4 linked regions of the Homo sapiens genome follow. The protein of the gene in region 2 interacts with the protein of the main gene of each other region in a pairwise test. Each region holds a gene or a part of one and is shown on either strand. Other genes may lie near its edges.

Region 1 (7,032 bases), about 42 Mb from region 2:
GCACCACTGCACTCCAGCCTGGGCAACAGAGCAAGACTCCGTCTCAAAACAAACAAACAAACAAAAAGAAACATCACTGTGTACCCCATGAATATGTACAATCATTATTTGTCAATTCAAAAAATAAAAAATAAAGTGAAATTTAAAAATTATAAGATAATAATAGCAACAGCAATTTATTAAACACCTATTGTGTGCCAGGAGCTGTGCTGAATTTTCTCCATATATTAATTTGGGGTTCAGCAAACCTTTTTCTGTAAATGGCCAAATAGTTGATGTTTTCAACTTTATACCATGACGCAACTCTGTTGTTGAAGCACACAAGCAGCCATAGACAAAATGTACACAAATGGGTGTGGCTGTGAGCCAATACAACTTTACTGATGGACACAGAAAAGTGAATTTCGTATCACTGTCACGTGTCATGGAATAATCTTTTTTTAAATTAAAAAAAAATTTTTAATGTGTTTATTTATTTTTGAGACAGAATCTCACTCTGTGACCCAGGCTGGAGTGCATGGCACAATCTGAGCTCACTGCGGCCTTGACCTCCTGGGCTCAAGCAATCCTCCCGCCTCAGCCTCCCAAGTAGCTGGGACTACAGGCATGCACCACCATACCTGGCTATTTATTTATTTATTTATTTGTAGATATGGACTCTCCTTATGTTCCCCAGTTTGGTCTCAAGCTCCTGGGGTCAAGAGATCCTCCCCACTTAGCCTCCCAAAGTGCTGGGATTAAAGGCATGAACCACCCCACCTGGTTGGAATATTATTATTCTTTGATTGTTTTTTGATCTTTTGAAAATATAAAAGCCATTCTTAGCTCACAGGAGGTACAAAACCAGGCTTTGGGTCAGACTGGCCTATTGGCCGTACTTTGCCCTGCAGTGGCGGCTGATTTTCCCCAAAGGCTGCCAAGTACAGTTACACAGTCTGTTCACTGCAAACTGTTCAGGCAACAAGGGCTGAAGTCCAGCCACATTCTGCTTGCTGAAAGAGGTGTATCCACTCGCAAGAGGTGCCCAGGGGGTCCCTAATTATCCCCATTTTACAGATGCAGGGACTGAGACTAGGGAAATTGAGAAAGTTTCCCAAGGTCATGAAAGAATGAATAGAGGAATTTTCAGAAACAGAGTCTGTGAACTGTCTGCGTAAGAGCCCCTTCAGATGTGCAAATGGACTGTGGGCGGTGACGGAGAGCATCACCTGAGGAAGTCTGGTGCCCGGAGGATCATGTTCTGGAAATCTTCCAGGGACAGCCGCCCATCATGGTCTCCATCAGCCTCATCCAGCACCTTCTCACATACCAGGCTCACCTCCTCGGCACTCAGCCCCCCCCGCGTCAGTTTGGTCACCGTCTGCTCCAGGTCCCACGCACAAATGTAGTCGTCGTTGTTAAAATCTGCAGAGCAGGATGGATGGGGAGTGACAGCAGGTGGCAGGAGGGCTAGGCCGGCTGTGGGCACATACTGTGCCCATGTTACAAGAAGGGGAAACTAAGGTCGGGCACGGTGGCTCACGCCTGTAATCCCAACACTTTGGGAGGCTGAGGAGGGTGGAACACCTGAGGTCAGGAGTTCGAGACCAGCCTGGCCAACATGGTGAAATCCCATCTCTACTAAAAATACAAAAATACCCAGGTGTGGTGGCATGCACCTGTAATCCCAGCTATTCAGGAGGCTGAGGCAGGAGAATCACTTGAGCCCGGGAGGTGGAGGTTGCAGTGAGCCAAGATCTCACCACTGCACTCCAGCCTGGGCAGCAAGACAGAAACTCCGTCCAAAAAAAAAAAAAAAAAAAAGGAACTGAGGCCCTGGGAGGGCACCCGAGACCCTGGTGTAAAATCTGGAACTTGCCTTAAAATTGGGCAGGGACCTGCTGGGAGTTCATTCATTCATTCAACAAGTATTTATGCAATGAATTTTTCATTCGTTCTTTTTTTTTTTCTTTGAGACGGAGTCTCGCTCTGTCGCCCAGGCTGGAGTGCAGTGGCACGATCTCGGCTCACTGCAACCTCCACCTCCTGGGTTCAAGTGATTCTCCTGCCTCAGCCTCCCAAGTAGCTGGGATTACAGGTGCCTGCCACCATGCCCGGCTAATTTTTGTGTTTTTAGTAGAGATGGGATTCCCCATGTTGGCCAGGCTGGTCTCAAATTCCTGACCTCAGGTGATCCACCCACCTCGGTCTCCCAAAGTGCTAGGATTACAGGTGGAAGCCACCACACCCAACCTCATTCATTCATTTTTACAAGCATTGAGTGCCTGCTGTGTGCTAGGCACTGTAATAACTTTTTTATTCACTCATACAAGTATTTATTGAGCATCTACTATGTGTCAGGCATCACAGTAACTGATTTTCATTCACTCACTCACTCAACAAGTATTTATTGAGTGCAATTTTCATTCATTCACTCACTTAACAAGTATTTATTGAGTGCCTACTGTGTCCTGGCACTGTGATAATAATTTTTCATTTACTCATTCAAAAAACAGTTATGGGCCCGGCGCAGTGGCTCATGCCTGTAATCCCAGCACTTTGGGAGGTGGAGATGGGTAGATCACCTAAGGTCAGGAGTTCCAGGCCAGCCTGGCCAACATGGTGAAACCCCATCTCTACTAAAATTACAAAAATTAGCGGGGCGTGGTGCGGGTGCCTGTAATCCCAGCTACTAGGTAGGCTGAGGCAGGAGAATCGCTTGAACCCAGGGAGTGGAAGTTGCAGTGATCTGAGATCGCGCCATTGCACTCCAGCCTGGGCGACAAGAGTGAGACGCTGTCTCAGTAAAAAAATAAATAAATAAAAATAGTTATTGAGTGCCTACTATGTGCCAAACACTGTGACAGCTCTTTCATTCATTTATTCAAGTATTTCTTGAACACGTACTACGTATCAAGCACCATGATATCTGTTTTTCATTTATTCACTCACTCAACAAGTATTTATTGAGTGCCTACTGTGTAGTGGGCACTGTGATAACTTTTTTCATCTATTCACTCAAAAAGTACTTTTTAACTGCTTACTGTGCACCAGGCACTGTAATAACTTTTTCATTTATTCATTCATTCATTCATCCATTCAGGAAGTATTTATTGAGCACCTACTACATGTTGGGCACCATAACTCTTTTATTCACTCACTCAACAAGTATTAGTGTCTACTGTGTGCCAGGTACTCTGATAACTTTTTCATTCATTCATTCATGCAACAAGTATTTATTGAGCACCTACTATGTGTTGGGCACCATGATAACTATTTTTCATGTACTCACTCAAAAAGTATTATGGTGGCAGGGCACGGTGGCTCATGCCTGTAATCCTGCCACTTTGGGAAGCCGAGGTGGGTGGATCACTTGAGGTTAGGAGTTCAAGACCAGCCTGGCCAACATGGTGAAACCCCATCTTTACTAAAAATACAAAAATTTGGCTGGGCGTGGTGGTTCATGCCTGTAATCCCAGCACTTTGGGAGGCTGAGGCGGGTGGATCACCTGAGGTCAGGAGTTCGAGACCAGTCTGGCCAACATGGTGAAACTCCGTCTCTACTAAAAATACAAAAAATTAGTCAGGCGTTGTGGCAGGCACCTGTAATCAATCTCAGCTACTCAGCAGGCTGAGGCAGGAGAACTGCTTGAACCCGGAAGACGGAGGTTGCAGTGAGCTGAGATCGCGTCACTGCACTCCAGTCTGGGGGACAGAGCAAGACTTTGTCTCACAAAAAAAAAACACACACACAAAAAAAACAAGTATTTATTGAGTGCACACAAGGTGCCAGGCACTAAGATAACTGTTTTTCTTTCATTCAGTCATTCAACAAATATTTACTGAGCCAGGCTCAGATGACAGGTGGTGAGCAAAATAGATACTGTTGGTACCTTTGAGTCTTCTCAGGGACAAAGTCAATAAGAAGTGAACAGGTCAAGGAACAAGAAATTAAGCAGCATTGCCTGGTGCTAGAAGAGAAATAGGATGGTGGGATGGGGGGATGAATGGGGAGAGGCCTACTTTTGACCTAGACTTCAAGGGTAAGAAGGAGCCAGGGGAGCTGGGTGCGGTGGCTCACGTCTGTAATCCCAGCACTTTGGGAGGCCGAGGCGGGCGGATCACCCGAGGTCAAGAGTTCGAGACAAGCCTGGCCAACATGGTGAAACCCCGTTTCTACTAAAAATACAAAAATTAGCCAGGCGTGATGGCACCTGCCTGTAATCCCAGCTACTCGGAAGGCTGAGGCAGAAGAATCACTTGAACCTGGGAGGCGGAGACTGCAGTAAGCCAAGATTGAGCCACTGCACTCTAGCCTGGGCAAAAAGAGCGAAACTCCATCTCAAAAAAATAAAAAATAAAAATCAATAAATAAATAAGGAGCAAGGCGAAAGGTGTTCTAGGCAGAGGGTTCAGCAGAGGCAAAGGCCCAGAGGCCGAAGACTGTGTTTGAGGAACAGCAAGGCCCATGTGGCTGGAATAGAGTTAGCAAATAAATGAGGTGGGGAGGCATTGGAGTGGGGTGGAGGACAGGGCCACATAGGGCCTCAAAACCCCTGGGGAGATATTTGTGATGTGGGTGCCACCCACCCAGTTCCCACTCCCCACCCCATCCCCATGCTTCCCAACCCCAGGGCCACGCACGCACCATAAATTTTAAAAGCATAGTAAGCCTTGAGGTCGCGGGGAGCCATTTCACTCATCACGGAAAACATGTCCAAAAAGTTGTCCAGGGTCATGTGGCCATCCCCATCCTCAGAGAATACCTGGGCAATCCTCTGGCGGAAGGGGTTGTCCTGGGGACAGAAAGGAAGCTGGGAGGCCATCCTCTGACCCCCAAGGTCTCTGGGGTCCATGTGGTCTCACTATCAGCACCCACCTTCTGGGAACCTCCAAGTACCCTCCATCAAGACCCACTCCCTCCCATGGTCCCTGGACAGGACTTTGGACAACTCCACCCTCCACCCCTGTGATCTGAGCAACCTTGCCCCAACTTCCAGCTCTTGGAGCAGCCATGTGACCCAGGCAAGGCCAATCAGAGAGTTCCATTCACCTGGCAATAGTGATTGGCTCTGTGATGGGCATGTGACTCAAGCTAGCCAATCAGAGGCTGACCTGGGATATTTTTCTGAAAAATTGGGAGGGAGGGGACCTGATTACTGCTGCTTGCAAAGCTCACAGAAGCTAAAGCTGAGTGGCTGAGAGGTCCCTTCACAGCCTCAAGAGGTGAGGCTGCCTTAGACTGAAACCTCTTCCTGGGAGGAGCCGAGATATGGGGGGAGATTCCTGAGCACATCATCAGAGGCCCTGGTTCCAGCTGTACCTGACACTGTCCCTGCCTCTGGATTTTTTTGTTGTTGTTCAGGGGCAATCCATTTTGATCCAAACCATTCTGTCCCTCTCAAATAAGGTTTTTGTCACTTGCAATAAAATCAACCCTACTCACAGTCAGTTACTCAACCCACAAGTTCCCCTTGGAGGCACAAACCATGTGTCAAACATCCTGCTGATAAAAACCTGCATTTAGCAGCTCCTGTTACAAGAAGAACTAACGTTCTCTGAGTACTTGACACACAACACACCCTGTACTGAATTTGTTGCCTGTATTATCTCGTTTCATCCTCCCAATTCTGGGTGTTTTTTGTTTGTTGTTTGTTTGTTTGTTTGTTTTTTGAGACAGAGTCTCACTCTGTCGCCCAGGCTGGAGTACTGTGGCTAGATCTCTGCTCACTGCAACCTCCACCTCCTGAGTTCAAGCAATTCTCCTGCCTCAGTCTCCCTAGTAGCTGGGATTACAGGTGTGCACTACCACGCCCAGCTAATTTTTGTATTTTTAGTAGAGACGGGGTTTCACCATGTTGGCCAGGCTGGTCTCGAACTCCTGACCTCAGGTGATCCACCCGCCTCGGCCTCCCAAAGTGCTGGGATTACAGGCTTGAGCCACCACACCAGCCAACTCTGGGTTTTAACCCTGTCTCTGTCACATTGTAGCTGTGTGACCATGAACAAGTGTCTTAACCTCTCTGAGTCTCAGTTTTCTTATCTTTAAAATGGGGATAACTGCAGCACTGACCTCAGAGGAATGCAACGAGAGACATCTCTACTATTTTTTACCCTGTTTGTCCCATGGCCTGGGCATACCTTCAGCTCGGGCATGCTGCCAATGAGCTCGTAGGGCACCTTCACATCGGGGCAGGTGGTATAGTCGAGGGGCACGAGCTGTGGGGCCAGGTCCTGGTAGCGATAGAAGAGCCTGATGTGGGGAGGAAAAAGCTGGGAAAGACTGGGAGCAGGGAGCAGGCAAGACGCTTGTCCCTTCTTTGTTTTTTGAGACAGAGTCTCGGTCTGTCACCCAGGCTGGAGTGCAGTGGCACAATCTCGGCTCACTGTAACCTCTGCCTCCCGGGTTCAAGCAATTCTCCTGCCTCAGCCTCCCAAGTAGCTGGGATTACAGGCACACCCTGCCACGCCCGGCTAATTCTTTTGTATTTTTAGTAGCGACGGGGTTTCATGTTGGTCAGGCTGGTCTCAAACTCCTGACCTCAGATGATCCACCTGACTTAGCCTCCCAAAGTGTTGGGATTACAGGCGTGAGCCACCGCACCTGGCCAAGTCCCTTCTCTTTCACATTCACAGCTGCTCACTGCACACTGAGGTATACTGGGTCCCCAAGAACACTCAGCCCTGGGCCTGGACCTCAAGCATACAGAGCCTGACACAGGCACCCCTAACCTCCCTGGGGGCAGGGTCAAGGTGCAGAGAGGGCCACAGGACAAAGGGAGACTGGACTGGGGGAAGCAAGCTAGCGAGGAGAAGGGGGTTCCTGGAAGAGGGGACATTGGTTCTGGGCTTTGAAGCATGAGTAGGAGCTTCTAAAGCAGATGGAGTTGGGAGAAGGGAGGGTGCTTATGGCCAGATCACAGCAAGCATTCAGAGAATCCTATATAATCCACACATCTCTGGATATTGTCATGTTATCAGCAAGACCCTGCCTCCAAAGATACCTTCACTTTCATACCTTCCCTTCCTCTCCTTATAATGGGAGGAAGAGGC
Region 2 (5,364 bases):
GGTTGCAATGAGCCAAAATCACGCCACTGCACTCCAACCTGGTCGACAGTCTTTAAAAAAAAAAAAAAAGCAGCCGCACGCGATGGCTCATGCCTGTAATGCTAGCACTATGGGAGGCCGAGATGGGCGGATCACAAGGTCAGGAGATCGAGACGATCCTGGCTAACACAGTGAAACCCTGTCTCTACTAAAAATACAAAAAATTAGCCAGGCGTGTTTGCGGGCGCCTGTAGTCCACAGGACTGGCTGAGGCAGGACAATGGCGTGAACCCGGAAGGCAGAGCTTGCAGTGACCTGAGATTGCCCCACTGCACTCCAGCCTGGGGGACAGAGTGAGACTCCACCTCAAAAAAAAAAACACAAAAAAACACAAGCAGCAACTCAAATATCCATAAACGGATGAATGAATATATAATGACATTTCATGGCAGACTATACTTCTCAGCAATATACAACAAATTAACTCATGTCTACATTGATATCAAAATAAGCATGATGCAGGAGAGCACCCAGGGATTATAAGAGGAAACACTTTATTACATCAGTCAGAAAATTCTAGAAAATGGAAAGTATTATACAGCAGAGTAAATCAATGGTTGTCTGCATAGAGAAAAACTTTATAAAGGCTCCAGGTGAATACAAAGGTGATAGATTAGATAAATTCATTATTGTGACTCTGATGATGGTTTCATGGGATTATAAGAAAATTCAAGCCAGGAGCAGTGGCTCACGCCTGCAATCCCAACACTTTGAGAGGCCAAGGCGGGCAGATCACGAGGTCAGGAGATTGAGAACTTCCTGGCTAACAGGGTGAAACCCCATCTCTACTAAAAATACAAAAAAGGTAGGAGTGGTGGTGGTTGCCTGTAGTCCCAGCTATTAGGGAGGCTGAGGCAGGAGAATGGCATGAACCCAGGAGGCAGGGCTTGCAGTGAGCCGAGATTATGCCACTGTACTCCAGCCTGGGTGACAGAGCGAGGCTGTCTCAAAAAAAAGAAAAAGAAAATTCAAGACTTATCCTACAGCTCAAATATGCATACTTTATTGGATGTCATTTATATATTTTATTTTTGAAACAGGGTCTCACTCTGTGGTCCAGACTGGACTGCAGTGTTGCAATCTCGGCTCACTGCAACCTCTGCCTCCCAGGCTCAAGCAAATCCTCCCATGTAGCAATCCTCCCACATGACAGCTCTCCTGTGAGTTATGCAGCCAGACTTCTGGATAAATATCCTGTATTTGTCACACTAGTAAGGCCTTCATTCAGTGTTAACTATAATCCTGAAGGAATACAGAGGTGTGGCTACAAAACTGCCCAAATTTATTTTACTTGTAAGGACTCTTCTCTAGTGTGAACTCTCCAATATCCAAGGAGAGCAGACCTTTGGGTAAACATTTTCCACATTTGCTGCAATCACAGGATCTTACTCAGGTGTGTATTCTCCAATATTTAATGAGACTGGACTCACTGCACTCATAAGCCCTTTCTTTTGTGAACTCTCTGATGATGACGAAGTGAAGAGATTTGCCTAAATTTTTTTTCACATTCACTGCACCCGTAAGGCTTTTCTCCAGTGTGAACTCTCCTGTGTTTAGTGAGACTGGAGCTTTCGGCAAAAGATTTCCCACATTCACTGCACTCATAAGGCTTCTGACCAGTGTGAACTCTCTTATGAACACGGAATGTAGAGCTGTGGGTAAATGACTTCCCACAATCACTGCATTCATATGGCCTTTCTCCAGTGTGAACTCTCTGGTGTGCAATGAGGTGGTACTTGTGCCTAAAAAATTTCTGACAAACCTCACACTCATATGGCTTCTCTCCAGTGTGAATTCTCTGGTGTACAAGGAGGTGGGACTTACTGTTAAATAATTTCCCACATATCCCACACGTATAAGGTTTTTCTCTAGTGTGAACTCCTTGATGATTACTGAAGCTGTCATATTTGCTAGAGGATTTCCCACATTCACACCACACAGAAGGTTCTTCTGTAGGGAGCAGTCTCTCGTGCTGACTGAGTATATCTTTGGTGCTAAAATGTTTCATGCATCCTCCACAGCTGTAATGGCTTTTTCCCCCATGAAACAGAGACACACACTCAGTTTTGCTGTTTGACTTCCCAGTGTGAGTGGCCTCTTGCTGGAGTAATCCTGACCTGAGCAAAAAGTCTTTCCCACTCTCACTGAAGACAGATGACTCCCCTGACACATGCAACTTACACCTCTTCGCAAACAACGCCTCCTCAACACTCCCTCTGTAGGGTTTCTCTCCAATGTGCTCATTCTGGTGCTGATGAAAGTTTCCACTGTCATACAATTTATTCCCCCAGGCCTCACACCTGTGCAGTTTCTGCTTGTGATGTGTTCCCTGATGATCTGCCACATGCAAAATGTCTCCCAAGATCGGGCCACACATCTCACAGGGGTGGGCCTTCTTGGGAGACACACCTGCCATAGGAGTCCTGACCTGAGTCTCTCTTTGTATATAAATACTCTGCTTAGAAGGTGCCGCCTCATCTTCCACTCCACACCAACAACCTGAAAGCAAGAAAATGCTGGTGAAGTGCATGTTAACTCTGGTGGGAAGGCACAGACCACCCACAAGTGTATCTGAAAAACTGAGGAATTACTCCAAGGAAGTACTTGGAGGAACAGGATGTTGGCTTCAGGTGGAAGATGGTGCTATGTATTATTACTGGACTATAATGGTCACAGAATGTAGGAGGCCTCATAACATAAAGGACACAACCATGTATGTAACACAGGGAGTAGAGGCAGGGTCTACAATCCCTGCATCTGCAAACCACTCATCTGCAGAATTTATGTCCTCATGACATGCGAGTGCTGTAGAGAGGGATTTGTCCAGGCCAAGGAAAACACAAGCACAACACAGCAGCTTCTGCTTGAGGACAGTTTAACAAAGTGTACACATTTGCTAACACAAAACCTGTATGCTAATACTGGAAACCACTGCAGATGAAGATGTGAATAAAATTAAGATGTGAGGTCCAGAGATGTGAAGATTATTCAGGGGAATAAATATCAGACTACAAGCTCATGTACAAATCAGTTAAAGGATTTAAAAAAAAAAAAAGTACAACTGACAAGGAGTACAACTGACAATTCTGAGGTTCTTAACAATGGGGAAGAGGCCAGTACCAGTGGCTCACAGCTGTAAACCCAATGTAGGAAGATCACCTGAGCCCAGAAATCCAAGACCAGCCTGGGAAACATGGTGAGACCCTGTCTCTACAGAAATTATTTTTAAAATGGCCAAGCATGGTGACTCATGCCTACAATCCCAGCACTTTGGGAGGCTAAGGCAAAGGGATCACTCAGGCCCAGGAGATCAAGACCAGCCTGAGCAACACAGCAAAACCTCTCTACAAACATTAGCCAGGTGTGATGGTGTGCACCTGCAGTCCTAGCTACTCAGGAGACTGAGGCTGGAGGATCACTTGAGCCCAGGAGGTTGAGGCTGTGTGAACTATATTCACACCACTGCACTCCAGGTAACAAAAATGACAGTGTGAGAACCTGTCTCAAAAAAGAAAAGAGAAGAGGAGAGGAGAGGGGAGGGAAAGGGAGAAGAGGGAAGAGGAAAGAGAAGAGAGAAGAAAAGGGCCAGGTGTCGTGGGTCATGCCTGTAATCCCAGCACTTTGGGAGGCAGAGCTGGGCGGATCACCTGACGTCAGGAGTTTGAGACCAGCCTGACCAACATGGAGAAACACTGTCTCTACTAAAAATACAAAATATTAGCCTTTGGGGAAAAGAAAGAGAGATCAGACTGTTACTGTGTCGATGTAGAAAGAAGCAGACATAAGAGACTCCATTTTGTTCAGTACTAAGAAAAATTATTCTGCCTTGAGATGCTGTTAATCTGTAACCCTACTCCCAACCCTGTGCTCCAGAAACATGTGCTGTGTCAACTCAAGGTTAAATGGATTTTGGGCTATGCAGGACGTGCTTTGTTAAACAAGTGCTTCAAGGCAGCATGCTTGTTAAAAGTCATCACTACTCCCTACTCTCAAGGACCCAGGGACACAAAACACTGCCTAGGAAAGCCAGGTATTGCCCAAGGTTTCTCCCCATGTGATAGCCTGAGATATGGCCTCATGGGAAGGGAAAGACCTGACAGCCCGACGCCAGTAAAGGGGCTGTGCTGAGGATTAGTAAAAGAGGAAGGCCTCTTTGCAGTTGAGATAAGAGGAGGGCATCTGTCTCCCGCTCATCCCTGGGCAATGGAATGTCTGGGTGTTAAAACCCAATTGTATATTCCATATACTGAGATAGGAGAAAACCGCCTTAGGGCTGGAGGTGAGACATGCTGGAGGCAATACTGCTCTTTAAGGCATTGAGATGTTTATGTATATGCACATCAAAAGCACAGCACTTTTTTCTTTACCTTGTTTATGATGCAGAGACATTTGTTCACATGTTTTCCTGCTGAACCTCTCCCCACTATTACCCTATTGACCTGCCACATGGTAGAGATAATGATCAGTAAATACTGAAGGAACTCGGAGACTGGTGGCGGCAGGGGGAAGGCAGGGTTCCTCCGTATGCTGAGCGCCAGTCCCCTGGGCCCACTTTTCTTTTTTTTTTTTATTTTTTATTCTTTATTGAGACGGAGTCTCGCTCTGTTGCTCAGGCTGGAGTGCGGTGGCACAATCGCGGCTCACTGCAAGCTCCGCCTGCCGGGTTCACGCCATTCTCCTGCCTCAGCCTCTCCGAGTAGCTGGGACTACAGGCGCCCGCCACCACGCCTGGCTAATTTTTTTGTATTTTTAGTAGAGACAGGGTTTCACCGTGGTCTCAATCTCCTGACCTCGTGATCCGCCTGCCTCGGCCTCCCAAAGTTCTGGGATTACAAGCATGAGCCACCGCACCCAGCCCACTTTTCTTTCTCTATATTTTGGATCTGTGTCTCTTTCTTTTCTCAAGTCTCTCATTCCACCTGACGAGAAACACCCACAGGTGTGGAGAGGCAGGCCACCCTTCATTAGCCGGGCATGGTGGCACATGCCTGTAATCCCAGCTACTCAGGAGGCTGAGGGCAGAATTGCTTGGGCCTGGGAGACAGAGGTTGCGGTGAGCCAGATCGCACCATTGCGCTCCAGCCTGGACAACAAGAGCGAAACTCCATCTCAAAAAAAAAAAAAAAAAAAAAAACAATGGAGAAGGCCAGGTGCAGTGGATCATGCCTGTAATCCCAGCACTGTGGGAGGCAAAGGCAGGCGGATCATGAAGTCAGGAGTTTGAGACCAGCCTGGCCAATATGGTGAAACCCCATCTCTACTAAAAATACAAAACATAGCCAGGCGTGGTGGTGCACGCCTGTAGTCCCAGCTACTTGGGAGGCT
Region 3 (7,032 bases), on a different chromosome or scaffold from region 2:
AAGTTGTTTCAAAGCTAAAGAGCAGTATGGAAAGCTCAGCATTTGTTTTGATTCTGCTTTAAGAATGCAGTGTAAAGGGCAGGAGGAGCTCAACACCAGCTGGAAGCACATCCCTGTCTCCTTGGTTTCTGCAGAGTCAGGATGAACGCAGGACCGGAACCAGGGGCTCAGTGTCTCTTGTTACGTCTGGTTTCTCATACTAGATTATTGATCTTCGATCCAATTCATGCAGCCTAATAGTTCCTCTAAATCTCACCAGAGCCTGGAGCCTGCACTGATGGTAAGGTAAATGTCTAGGCAGTTCTAGTTCTGGAAGGAAAATTTTTAAAGGGAAAGGAAAAAACTTATTTTCCTTACTCTTATAGGACATTTAAATGATGCATCAGGATCCAGGAAGCACAGAGAAACACTTAAAAGATTTTGGAGTGATTGCTACGGTTTGTGTTTTTTGAAGAAAATGAGAATTAAATGCTTTTCTATCTTGATGCTTGTTTTAGGGGTTGTAGAAGGTGATTTAGCTGCCATAGAAGCATACAAGTCATCAGGAGGAGACATTGCACGTCAGCTCACCGCAGATGAAGTACGCTTGCTGAATCGTCCTTCTGCCTTTGATGTTGGCTATACTCTTGTACACTTGGCTATACGTTTTCAGAGGCAGGATATGCTAGCAATATTGCTTACAGAGGTAAGTTTGGCGTTTTGGTTAAATGTTCTTTTATATTAAAGAAACCTGTTCTTTAGTTTTCATTTTTGATTTTATAATGTTTCTCTAAGCAGCTTTAAAATGTTTTGAATTCTTTTACCCCCTTTTAAAAATAACATTAAACTTAAGAGACTTAATTTTTAAGGGTATATGCTTTCAAATATTTGAATAGTCACAACAATGTTTGACTCATCATGTTTGGTTCATACAAACCTGGGATGTATCTGTCATTCTTTAGTCATTCAATTAACAGATATTTATTGTGCATTTACTGTGTGCCATGCACTAGGCTGAGAAGGGATACAATTGTAAAGATACTGGCTCTTTCTTCATTAAATCTCCAGCAAAGTAGAGAAATGAACAGGTAATTCTGTGCAGCCTGTGCCCTGGTAGATGTAAATGCCAAGTGTTATGCCAGTACTTGAAGAGTTTTGAGGTGTCTTGTCGTCTTTCTTATAGCAGGTAATGTTTTTGCTGCAATTTGAAGAGAAAGAGTTAGGAGTTAGCCACATGAAGTGGATAAGGGAGAGAAGGGAAGTTGAGGAAAGCATTTTTACAGGGGGCAGAGATGGTGGAATTTGTGGTGAATCTAGGGACTTGCAGGTAACTAAGCATGGCTGAGATGGTGATTGGGAATGGAGAGAAGGGAAGTCTGAAAGATAAGCAGAGGCTGGATTACGAAGGATCTTCTGTGTCAAGGAATTTGAAGATTATCCCTAGGCACTGGATGGTGTTAGGTATGGGCGCAGGGGAGTGAGCAGAGCAGATTGTGTTTTGGCTGCTGCACACTGGAGAGGGGTGAGCCTGGTTAGGAGGGAGTTGCAGAGGTGCTGGCAAGAACTTCTGCCAGAAGGGCAGAAGGGTAGCCATAGAAGGGTACCCAGAAGGGTAGCCTTAGAAATGGGAAGAGGGTTAGAGGGTTGGAGAGACTGAGACAGGCCCTCAGTCTGAAGAAGTAGACTGATTGGATATGGGAAGATACAGTGTGGATGTAAGTTGATTCTTCAGTTTCTGGCTTACATAACTAGGTACATGCTACCAATGATAGAGATTGTGTATGAATTATTCAGAATGTGACTACATTATCCAGGTTTTTTTTTTCTTTCTTTTTTTTTTTAAGCTGGAGTCTCACTCTGTTGCCCAGGCTGTAGTATAGTGGCACGATCTTGGCTTACTGCAGCCTCTGCCTCCTGGGTTCAAGCGAGTCTCCTTTGTCAGCCTCCTAAGTAACTGGGATTGTAGGCACATGCCACCATGCCTGGCTAATTTTGTATTTTTAGAAAGGTGGGGTTTCACCATGTTGGCTAGGCTGGTCTTGAACTCCTGACCTCAAGTGATCTGCCCGCCTCGGCCCCCCAAAGTGCTGGGATTATAGGCATGAGCCACCGTGTCTGGCCAAGGTAACATTTTTTAATGGTAAGAGAAATAGAGTAAAAGTGCAGAGAGTCATATTAATTGTGGATTCAAATTTTGTCAGTATACATCTTTCATATATACTTTTGCATATTTGTTTATTCAAATTTGCCAATATTTGGGAACCACTGCAGGGCACTGTATGGGGATTAAAAAATTTGAAGGTTAGATGGAAACATGATTGTAGTAGCTAACCCCTGTGTCCAGTTTGGTAAGATTCCAGTGAAGCCGGGGTGGGGGGCTTGAGAGACTGAAGGCCATGATGAAAACAAAAGGGCAGGCTTATTGAGTATAAGGGAGAAGGGAACTTTTCAGATAGAGGGATCCAGGTTTTGGAACATGAGATAGAAGAATTGGAGTTTTTCTAGTGTCGAAGGCCTGGCTGCATTTGTGTTGTGGTGCCTAGTTGTGTTGTCTATTGTATATTGGAAGGGCTGTCAATGTGGAGTTGTAGTTGCTGGTGGTGACAGGAGCCAGGATAAAGAAGGTGGTTGTGAACTAGGGTGAAAGTCTTAAGGGGCTCCCCTAAAGGTAGGTAGAAGATTATTACAAGGTTTTAGAGGGGCCATTGTGAGTCATTGAGCTCCTGAGACAGTCTGAGGAGTAACAGTGGGATGATGATCGAACATCAGTATATTTATTGCAGTATCACAGATTGTCTGGAAACTTAGCAGCTAAGACAACAAATGTATGTTATCTCACAGAGTTTGTGAGGGTTAGAATCCAGGAGCTGCTTAGCTGAATAGTTTTGGCTCATGATGTCATGAGGTTGCAGTCAAGTGGTCCAGGGCTGTAGTTGTCAAAAGACTCAACTGGGGCTAGAGTATCTGTTCCTAAGCCCACTCAGGTGGCTTTTGGCAGGAGGCTTCAATACTGTGCCATGCAGGCCTGTCTACAGGGATGCTCATGATACAGCAGCTGGTTTTACCCCCAACAAGTGATCCAAGAGAGGCACAGAGTACAAGAGAGTGATCCAGTGTCTTTGAAACCTGCAGTGTCTTTTATAAATTGATTTAGGAAGCAACATACCATTACTTTTGCTGTATTCCGTGGGACGTGTAGAACAACCCTGGAACAGCGTGGGAGAGGTGGAGGGGATTTGTTCCAGGCAAAGAGCAAAATTGGTCATGGATTCAGTCTCCATGGAGTAAATACTCCAAAGGACAGAATTAAAGGGGCCAGTAGGGAGACTGGAAGTGGGGGAGTCTGGACTAAGTCTAGACTAAGGGGGTGTGTTGCAGAGAATGCTCAGCCAAGTTCTTTTGGAATGAGAACAGGAGAACATTAGAGTTGGGGATATGTATGTGGGGCAGGAATTTTCATCGGTTTCTGTGTCATGGACCATGTTGGTAGTTTCATGAAACTTATGGACTCCTTCCCAGAATACTGTTTTTAAATACAAAAAATAAGAAGTAAATGAGATTACAAAGGAAATCAGTTGTATTGAAGTAATAGCTACCAAAATACTAAACTAAATTTGTGATATATAAGAAAATACATTTTAATATAGGTAAAAAGTTGGGGATAATTGATTTAACTTGAATTAAAACCAAATTCCCATTAAAGTACATGGACCATTCCCAAGATCATGGACCCTAAGTTAAGAACTCCCAGCCTACGGAGATGGTTGAGAACCATAAGGTTGAAGGAGGTGAGAAGGTGAGTGGCAGGCTTCAGGGGCACATCCTGCTTAAGGATGGTGGTGGAAGGGGTTGTTTGGGGGCTAAGTTTCTTTTAGAATGTTTGTGGTAGTCAGGGTCCAGTCCAGGTGGTTTTTGGAAAGGTCTTTCCAGGTTTTTGGAAAGGGCCTGAGAGCTAGCTGATGGGAATAAGCTATTTTTGAATTTACTTTGGGGGAGCCATTTTAACTATGTTACTTGAGAAATAGTCAATTATATTCTGAAAATATTTAATATTTGGTTTTCCATGTTTGAGTGTTGACTAATGGTTGGGCTCATGGAGTTAAGATATAGTGAGAATTTTCATGGTTAATGGTAATCTTGGCCAATAAAGTCTAGTTGAACTGAATTTCCACGTAGGAGTTTTTAAATTTTTTATTTTTTTCTTTTCTTTTGAGACAGACTTTCTCTCTGTTGCCCAGGGGAGTGATCATGGCTCACTGCAGCCTTGACCTCCCTGGCTCAAGTGATCCTCTCACCTTTCAGCCTCCCCAGTAGCTGGGACTACTGGTGCATGCCACTAATGCCTAGCTAATATTTTGGGGTTTTTTGTAGAGGCAGAGTTTCATTATGTTGCCCAGGCTGGTCTTGAATTCCTGAGCTCAAATGATCCTCCTGCCTTGGCCTCACACAGTGCTGGGATTACAGGTGTGAGCCACTGCACCAAGCTGCAGTTTCAGAATAGGGAGTCAGGTAACTGTGCTGGGTATGCAGGGTTTTTGAAATATTATTTCTTTAATAGCAATAGCAGTTAGTTGTCTGCATATATGATGTAGATAACATTATCATTAAACCTTACTCTTTGAGAAGAAGAAGAAGGGGCTGGAAGACCTGTTGCTTCACACCCCACTGTGGCTGGAAGGCTACCTTTGGGATAATCGTCCAGGTTGGTGACATCAGGGAACAGGCTCACTGTGGGTTCCCACGGTATTCTCTTTGGGGTTTTTTTTTTTTTTTTTTTTTTTTGGCAGAGTCTCTCTCTGTCACCCTGGCTGGAGTGCAGTGGCGCGTTCTCAGCTCATTTCAACTTCCTCCTCCCGGGTTCAAGTGATTCTCATGCCTCAGCCTTCCAAATAGCTGAGACTACAGCTAATTTTTGTAGTAGTATTTTTAGTAGAGACAGGGTTTCATCATGTTGGCCAGGCTGGTCTCAAACTGCTGAGCCGAAGCAATCCACCCGCCTCGGCCTCCCAGAGTTGGTGGGATCACAGGCGTGAGCCATTGTGCCTGGCCTTGAATTCTGTTTGTTACTCGCAGATGCTCAACTGTGATTTTAGAATTCTGTGTATGTATTTTTATTTAGCTCCACAAACTAGATATGACTGAAATGTGAGGTTAAATTAAATCTTTGCAACATTTGTTGCTATTTAGCATTTTAAAAAGAATAAAAAAATAACAAAAGAAAGTTCTAGCCTTCTTTGGTTTGTTGTTTTCTTGCTTAGAGGCCTGTGCAGTAGTGCTCCCATCTCACTCCTGTCAGGCTGAGCTTCAGAGGTTGGCAGTCTGTGTTTAAACTTGCAGATGCCAAATGCTTTTTTAAAAACTCAAGAGTGGTAACAAATGGAGAGGAAGAAAGGGCTTGAGGTCAGTGGGAACTAACCCTTTAAATACCGTGCTTTTTTTAAGTCCAAGTTAGGGTACTTGAAACTTGTGGTGTGGGAGAAGAGTATTTGCAGTTTCCCTTTATCAGCTGTGATTCTCTGCTTCTAAAGAATGTTTTTATTGTGTGCACGATGGTTAGTCTACTGAGGTTTTCTGTCCTCTCTCCTCTTCCTGTGATGTGTCTATGAACAACACCCTTTTCCATACATTTTTATGTGCATCTTTGAGTATTTCCTTGTGATAAATTCTTAAAGAGAATTACTGAATCAGAGGATAAAACATTTTTGTGACTGTTACTGAAAACTTATTCTGGTATATACTTTCATTGGTAAGGAAATAATACCAGTGTATTTTAAGATTAAAGAAAACCTTGAGTTATTGGGAAATTTTGCTGATTTCTTTTAAATACTGTTGTTTTCTGCTTCCACTTATGATACATGAGATGAGAGGAAGGTTTCTTTTGTATTTAAGGTGTCTCAACAAGCAGCAAAGTGTATTCCAGCAATGGTGTGTCCTGAACTGACAGAACAAATCCGGAGAGAGATAGCTGCCTCTCTTCATCAGAGAAAGGGGGATTTTGCTTGCTATTTTCTGACTGACCTTGTAACATTTACATTGCCAGCAGGTAACTCCAAAATCTAACGTAAAAAGACTTTTTTATTTTATTATAGTTACATTTGTGTATGTAGGTGAAAAATGTTTCTGTTAGAAAGCACATAACATAGCTACTGTATGTGCATCTTAAATTACTTGACTGTCTTATATATGCTGGAAGTGAGCATACAGAGGATTACTTGTTAGGAAATGCGTCTGCTATCTGAGAGGAAGACAGCAGTTGATAGTAACGGATTTCTTTGTGGACCTCAGATTATTTTTTAAAAATCTGTTGTACTCTTTTATTTTTCTCTTTGGTTTTATTTTAGAATATCCTTTAAAAAAATCTCCTTTGAAAAATTTTCCCTTTTCATGCTTGTGTGTTATTTGAAATTAGATAGCTATATTGGTTACCTGGTATTAAGAGATGGGATTAGAACATGAGCTTTTGATGGGTAGAGTCAGGTTATTTGAATTGAACACACTGCATCCTCTTGAATATGTCATTCCTTTTTTACTCATTTATTTCTACTATGTTTGTGAAGGAACTTTTCATTTTTCAATTCATTGACAGTTGAAAACATCCTCCAGAATGCGTTTTGTCAGTTGGCATTGAATAAATACACCAAACACCAAACGTTTCTAAAATCTTTCATCTGAGATTCTGAGATCTGTTTGTTTTGTTGCTGTTTTTTTTTTTTTTAGATTGAAACGGGGTCTTGCTCTGTTGCCCAGGCTAGAGTGCAATGGGCGTGATCATAGCTTACTGCGCCTTCAACTTCTGGGCTCAAGTGATCTCCTGCCTTGACCTCCTGAGTAGCTAGGACTATAGGCACATGCCACCCACCCCTGGCTAATTTTTAATTTTTTTGTAGAGATGGAGTCTCGCAGTATTACTCAGGCTAGATCTCAGTGTTTTTAATTTTTATGTTCAGACAAACGGATTTTTACAAATTGTAGGAGATAGTAACTAAGTTTTCTGAAACTGGAGGAAGTTTCATTTGAAATGCACTTGTTCTGAGTATTTAAGCTTACCCCAGA
Region 4 (7,032 bases), on a different chromosome or scaffold from region 2:
ACCTAAATTTAATTTCTTTCCAAAAAGAATGACTAGAAGAGTCCTGTAACTTCAATTATTTGCTCCTTAATGTGATCAACTGAGAATTTAAATTGAGCTTCCTAAGAGCTTCATTTTCCTTTCTGCCTCAACGGCAGTAAAAAAAAAAAAAAAAAAAAAAATTAAAGTGGCAAGTTATAAGCAAGAGTATAGGAAGTAAAAAAAAAATTTTATTGAGAAGAATGTTTGCTTTGAAAAAATATTTCTCAAAACAACTTTCTTTGCTATTCTGAAATTTCATTAACATGACAGTATCTAAGGCAAAACCTAAATCATGTTTGTACTGTGATTGATGATACAGGCTTCCAAGGAGGGCAGAGTGACTCTGGGTTGGCAGTGACAAGTTCTGTTCTATTAATACTTGTGGTAGGCAGAATATGATGTCCACATGCCAATTCCCAGAAGCTGTGAACACATGGCAAAAGGAACTTTGCAGATGTGATGAGATTAAGGATTTTGAGATGGGAGAGTACTCTGGATTATCCAAGTGAGTCCAGTGTACTCATAAGAGTCCTTATACATGAAAGAGGGAGACGAGAAGGTAAATGTTAGAGTGATATGATGTGAGAAAGACTCAGCCATCGTTGGCTTTGAAGATGGGGAGGGGGCCATGAGCCAAGGAATGCAGTAGCCTCTGGAGCTAGAAAAGGCAAAGGAGTAGAGTCTTCCCACTGAACCTCCAGAAGGAACGCACCCTGCCAACACCCTGGCTTTAGCCCACTGAAATTTATTTGGGACTTTTTTTCCCACAGAGAGAGGGTCTTGCTTTATTGCTCAGGCTGCAGTGCTCCTGCATCAGCTTCTCAAGTAGCTGGGACTACAGGTGCACACTACTACACCTGCTAATTTTTAAACTTTTTTTTGTGGAGTGTGGTCTTTCTATGTTGACCAGGCTGGTGTCGAACTCCTGGCCTCAAGTGATTCTCCCACCTCGGCCTCCCAAAATGCTGGGATTATAGGCATCAGCTACCAGACGTAGCCTGTTTGGGACTTCTGACCTACAGAACTGTAAAATAATAAATTTGTGTTGTTTTAAGCCATTAAATGTGTGGTATTTTGGAAATTATCTATTAGTGATAGGGCCAACTTTAATAAAAAGAAAAGTTCATAACCCAACAAAATGGGAACTCATACTATTACTATTTAAATCTTATTTATACCCCAGTGTTTCTTCATGCTGTTTGTTTGTTTGTTTGAGATGGAGTCTTGCTCTGTTGCCCAGGCTAGAGTGCAGTGGTGTGATCTTGGCTCACTGCAACCTCCGCCTCCCAGGTTCAAGTGATTCTCCTGCCTCAGCCTCCCAAGTAGCTGGGATTACAGGCACCTGCCACCATGCCCAGCTAATTTTTTTGTATTTTTAGTAGAGACGGGGTTTCACCATCTTGGCCAGGCTGGTCTCAAACTCCTGACCTCATGATCCACCCACCCCAGTCTCCCAAAGTGCTGGGATTACAGGCATGAGCCACCGCACCTGGCATCTTCATGTTTTTATAAAGGCATCTTAGCATCATGCTCAGTTTCCAACATTTTGCTTTCAAAACAGTATCCATTCTCTATACACAATAAGGAATTGGAAGAAAAATATAAAAATAATCCCATTCTGATTTCAAGAGGGATGTTGAAGGATGGGGATGAACCCTGAGCTACCACGAGCTACCACGTATTTTTGTAAATCTGAAACCATGTTTCTTAAATCACTCTCATGTTGTTCTAATTTGTGTTTGTTCAACTTTGAGGGGAAGTTTCAGAAGAGGAAGTTTTACAACATAGATTACAAAATATTTAGCCAGATAACAGCTGGTGCCATGGTACAGGCATGGGCTTATCCACAGACTCCCGATCATTTTGGAGTTGTAACATTTTATCAAAATACGATGCTAAATTTTATTATTTCCATAAGGTAAGGTATAATTTCTTTTTGGTTATGATAAATTAAGACTAACTGTTTTGACAATTTTTGAGAGTTTCATGACCTCCTAAAATAACCAGAAGCATCTCTGTTCTTCCTGGAACACTCCTTTCCCAAAGATCCACTGCCTTACTCTCCCCTTCATTCTGGTGCTCAGGCCAAGGTGGGAGGACTGCTTGAGGTCAGGAGTTTGAGACCAGCCTGGGTAACATAGTGAGACCTTGTCTCTAGAATTTTTTTTTTTTTTTTTTTTTTTTTTTGAGACTGAGTCTTGCTCTGTCGCCAGGCTGGAGCGCAGTGGTGCGATCTCGGCTCACTGCAACTTCCGCCTCCCAGGTTCACGTGATTCTCCTGCCTCAGCCTCCTGAGTAGCTGGGATTACAGGTGCACGCCACCATGCCTGGCTAATTTTTGTATTTTTAGTACAGATGGGGTTTCACCATGTTGGTCAGGCTGGTCTGAAACTCCTGACCTCATGATCCACCCGCCTCAGCCTCCCAAAGTGCTGGGATTACAGGCGTGAGCCACAGCACCTGGCCGAAAAAATTTCTTTTAAATTAGCCGGATATGGTGGAACATGCCTGTAGTCTCAGCTACTCAGGAGACTGAGGCAAGAGGATTGCTTAAGCCCAGGACTTTGAGGTTGCAGTGAGCTGTGATCATGCTACTGCACTCCACCTTAGTGACACAGTGAGACTGTCTCTTTTTAAAAAAGAAAAAGGCCAGGCACGGTGGCTCATGCCTGTAATCCCAGCATTTTGGGAGGCTGAGGTGGGCGGATCACTTGAGGTCAGGAGTTTGAAACCAACCTGGCCAACGTGGTGAAACCCCATCTCTACTAAAAATACAAAAAAAAAAAAAAATTAGCCAGGCATGGGGGCGGGCACCTGTAATCCCAGCTACTCAGGAGGCTGAGGCAGTAGAATACCTTGAACCCAGGAGGCGGAGGTTGCAGTGAGCCGAGATTGTGACACTGCACTCTAGCCTGGGCGACAAGAGTGAGACTCCACCTCATAATAAATAAATAAAAATAAAAAATAAAAAGAAAAGTAAAAAGAAAAAAAATGTCACCTCCTTACAGAAGCCTTCCTAACCCTGGCCTGAAATACTAGCACCCCATTCCCCATAATCACTCACTATCCCTTCACTTACCACTGCCCAATGTTACACATCTGTTGATTTGCAGGGTTTTGGTTTTTTTTCTTTTTTTTTTTTTGAGACAAAGTCTTGCTCTGTTGCCCAGGCTGGAGTGCAGTGGTACAATTTTGGCTCCACCTCCCGGGTTCAAGCAATTCTTGTGCCTCGGCCTCCCGAGTAGCTGGGACTACAAGCACGTGCCACCACACCCAGCTAATTTTTATACTTTTAGTAGAGATGGGGTTTTGCCATGTTGGCCAGGCTGGTCTCAAGCTCCTGACCTCAAGTGATCCATCCGCCTCAGCCTCCCAAAGTGCTGGGATTACAGGCATGAGCCACTGTACCCGGCCTGCAGGTTTATTTTCTATCTCCTCTATTAGAATGTGAAATCCATGACATTAGGGCCTTTGTCTATTTTGTTTACTGACATTATTCTCAGAAATTGGACCTGTGCCTGACACCTAATGATGCCCAGTAAATATTTGACTGCAAAAAAAAGTACTTCACAAAAAAGGCAAGGTTGGTAATCATTTATAGATATCATTAATATATTAGATGCATAACTACTGTACTGTACAATATTTAGAAATATAAACATCGACTACTTTTTTTTTTTTTTTTTGAGATGGAGTCTTGCTCTGTCGCCCAGGCTGGAGTGCAGTGGTGCCATTTTGGCTCACTGCAAGCTCCGCCTCCCGGGTTCATGCCATTCTCCTGCCTCAGCCTCCCGAGTAGCTGGGACTACAGGAACCTGCTACCACGCCCGGCTAATTTTTTGTATATTTAGTAGAGACAGGGTTTCACCATGTTGGCCAGGATGGTCTCGATCTCTTGACCTTGTGATCCACCTGCCTCAGCCTCCCAAAGTGCTGGGATTACAGGCGTGAGCCACCACGCCCGGCTATCAACTACTTTTATACTACCACCAATCCCAAGAGATGAATAAAGATAAATTTCTAAAAGCTGGGTGCAGTGGCTCATGCCGGTAATCCCAGCACTTTGGGAGGCCGAGGCAGGCAAATCATTTGAGGTCAGGAGTTTGAGACCAGTCTGGCCAAGATGGTGAAACCTCGCCTCTACTAAAAACACAAAAATTAGCCAGGTGTAGTGGTGCATGCCTGTAATCCCAGCTACTCCAGTGGCTGAGGCAGGAGAATCGCTTGAACCCGGGGGGTGGAGGTTGCAGTGAGCCGAGATCGCGTGCCACTGCACTCCAGCCTGGGTGACAGAGCAAGACTCCGTCCAGAAAAAAAAGAAAATCTAAAATCCAATATGGTTATTTATTTTAGATTTTGGAAGGGTTATAGCTTTGATACTATGCACAGGAGAAAGAAAGGAGAGGAAATTCAGCATTCTTACCAGTGCTACTTTGTCGTCTGTAATTGGAAATTCTGGACACTTGAGGGAATGTATCTTGCTGGCTCTTATGCTTGGAATACTGAAAACTCGCTTCATTTCTTTCTTCTCCCTTTCTCGGAAATGGAGGAGGGCTAAAGTTCTTTCCATCTGATCTTTTTCTAGACCTATGTGAAAATTCTATTTCATAAATCCCACCAGGTTTCCTTCCGAGGCCATACCCTAAATCACCTTCTGTCATGTCATCCTCTTCTGTTTCCCAGAGCTGCACGTCTGACTCACTTGATGATCTTGCCACCTTGCTCATGAGCCAAATGCCGTCTTTATCATAAGAAAAAATGGGCTGTCTGTAGTTAAGAAAAACAGTAGTTAGGAAAACATCAGTAGATCCAGCAACCCCACCTCTCGATATTTACCCAAAACATTTGAAATCAGTATGTCAAAGAGATGTCTACATTCCCATGTTTGCTGTAGCACTGTTCACAATAGCCAAGATATGGAATCAACCTAAGTGTCCATCAAAGATGAACAGGTGAAGAAAATATGGTGTGGGGTGTGTGTGTGTGTGTGTGTGTGCGTGTGCGTGTGTACACAATGAAATACTAGTCAGCCTTGAAAAAGAAGGAAATCCTGTCACTTGGGACATCATGGATGGAACTAGAAAACATTATGCTAAGTGTAATACGCCAGACACAGAAAGACAAATACCACGTTCTTCCTTATGTATAAAATAAAAAACAATCAAACTCAAAGGAGCAGAAAGAAAAATGGTGGTTACCAGAGGCTGGGGGATGGGAGGAATGGGGAAATGATGGTCAAAGGGCACAAAGTCCTAGTTAGACAGGAAGAATAAGGTTTTTTCCTTTGCAATACATTGCACAGCATGGTGAATATAACAAAAATGTATTGAACATTTCAAAATTGCTCATAGAATAAAATTCAAATATTCTCACCACAAAAATGATAAGTATTTGAGATGATGGATATGTTAATCAACTTGATTTAATTATTCCACATTGTATTCATAAATCATAACATCACTTTGTACCTCATAAATATAGGCAGCCATAATCTGTCAATTTTCAATTAAAAAAACAAAAAACCTAACAAACAAAATGAAGAAAACCCATCAGTAAAGTCATGTGTCACCTAATGATGGGAATATATTCTGAGAAATGTGTTGTTAGGCAATTTTGTCGTTGTGTGAACACCATAGAGCATACATACACAAACCTAGATGGTATAGCCTACTATACCCCTGGGCTACATGGTAGAGCCTATAGTTCCTAGTCTACAAACCTGTACAACATGGTATAGCACTGAATACTGTAGGAAATCGTTACACATGGGTCAATATTTGTGTATGTAAACATACCTAAACATAGAAAAGGAACAGTAAAAATACAATAGTATCTTATGGGACCACCACTGTCTATGTGGTCTGTCATTGACTGAAACATAATTTGGTGCATAACTGTATAATAAAGCTGAATTTTTCAGGGAAAAAAGTTTCTTTCTGTATTATACAGGCATGAATATCCTAGCAATGCACTCGCACATAAATGCCCTTGCAATCCAATTATAAGTATTTAACATTTCAGAACTCTTTTTTTTTTCTTTTAGACGGAGCTTCGCTCTTGTTGCCCAGGCTAGAGTGTGGTGGCGCAATCTTGACTCACCACAAACTCCGCCTCCCGGGTTCAAGCGATTATCCTGCCTCAGCCTCCCAAGTAGCTGGGATTACAACCATGCGCCACCATGCCCGGCTAATTTTCTATTTTTTTTTTAGTAGAGACGGGGTTTCTCCATGTTGGTCAAGCTGGTCTCGAACTCCTGACCTCAGGTGATCTGCCTGCCTCGGCCTCCCAAAGTGCTAGGATTACAGGCATGAGCCACCGCGCCCAGCTGGGTTTTTTTTTTCATTTGTTTGTTTGAGAGATGAGGTCTAACCATGTTGCCCAGGCTGGTCTCCAACTCGTGGGCTCAAGTGATTCTCCCAGTTCAGCCTCTGGAGTAGCTCGGATGACAGGAGTGAGGCACCACGTGGGGGTGGGGAGCAGATATACTCTACATTCAATAAATACTTGTTTAGTAACTGAATAAAGGAAGAGAGGAATAAAGAAACAAACTGAAATACAATCATCCCAAGGAATTCAAGGGGAACTGGTTCCAGGACCCCTGTGTATTTCCTTGGATCCTCAAATTCTTAGCCAGGCATGGTGGCTCACACTTGTAATACCAAGGCTTTGGGAGGCTGAGGCTAGAGGATTGCTTGAGCCCAGGAGTTTGAGACCAGCCTGGGCAACACAGTGAGAACCTGTCTCTACAAAAAAAAAATTTTTTTTTTTTGAGACAGTCTTGCTCTGTCGCCCAGGCTGGAGTGCCGTGGCGCAATCTCAGCTCACAGCAACCTCCGCCTCCTGGATTCAAGCAATTCTCCTGCTTCAGCCTCCTGAGTAGCTGGGATTACAGGCACGCGCCACCACACCCGGCTAATTTTTGTATTTTTAGCAGAGACGGGGTTTCACCATGTTGGTCAGGCTGGTCTCAAACTCCTGACCTCATGATACACCCGCCTTGGCCTCCCAAAG

What was found.
Region 1: the proteins of ZNF552 (region 2) and CIB3 interact in binary tests that used the Homo sapiens proteins (3 or more experiments, as listed by UniProt).
Region 3: the proteins of ZNF552 (region 2) and ZRANB1 interact in binary tests that used the Homo sapiens proteins (3 or more experiments, as listed by UniProt).
Region 4: the proteins of ZNF552 (region 2) and CCDC125 interact in binary tests that used the Homo sapiens proteins (3 or more experiments, as listed by UniProt).

Annotation. Positions count from the first base shown.
Region 1 is NC_000019.10:16,163,510-16,170,541, forward strand, and holds part of CIB3 (calcium and integrin-binding family member 3), read right to left. Parts: intron 6,233-7,032; coding exon 6,121-6,232; intron 4,776-6,120; coding exon 4,628-4,775; intron 1,405-4,627; coding exon 1,209-1,404; intron 1-1,208. UniProt on the Homo sapiens protein: Acts a an auxiliary subunit of the sensory mechanoelectrical transduction (MET) channel in hair cells. Plays a role in regulating hair cell MET channel localization and function.
Region 2 is NC_000019.10:57,806,566-57,811,929, forward strand, and holds the end of ZNF552 (zinc finger protein 552), read right to left. Parts: intron 2,539-5,364; coding exon 1,475-2,538; 3' UTR 517-1,474; downstream 1-516. UniProt on the Homo sapiens protein: May be involved in transcriptional regulation.
Region 3 is NC_000010.11:124,966,097-124,973,128, forward strand, and holds part of ZRANB1 (ubiquitin thioesterase ZRANB1), read left to right. Parts: intron 1-497; coding exon 498-685; intron 686-5,868; coding exon 5,869-6,022; intron 6,023-7,032. UniProt on the Homo sapiens protein: Ubiquitin thioesterase, which specifically hydrolyzes 'Lys-29'-linked and 'Lys-33'-linked diubiquitin. Also cleaves 'Lys-63'-linked chains, but with 40-fold less efficiency compared to 'Lys-29'-linked ones.
Region 4 is NC_000005.10:69,315,793-69,322,824, forward strand, and holds part of CCDC125 (coiled-coil domain-containing protein 125), read right to left. Parts: intron 4,789-7,032; 5' UTR 4,749-4,788; coding exon 4,445-4,748; intron 1-4,444. UniProt on the Homo sapiens protein: May be involved in the regulation of cell migration.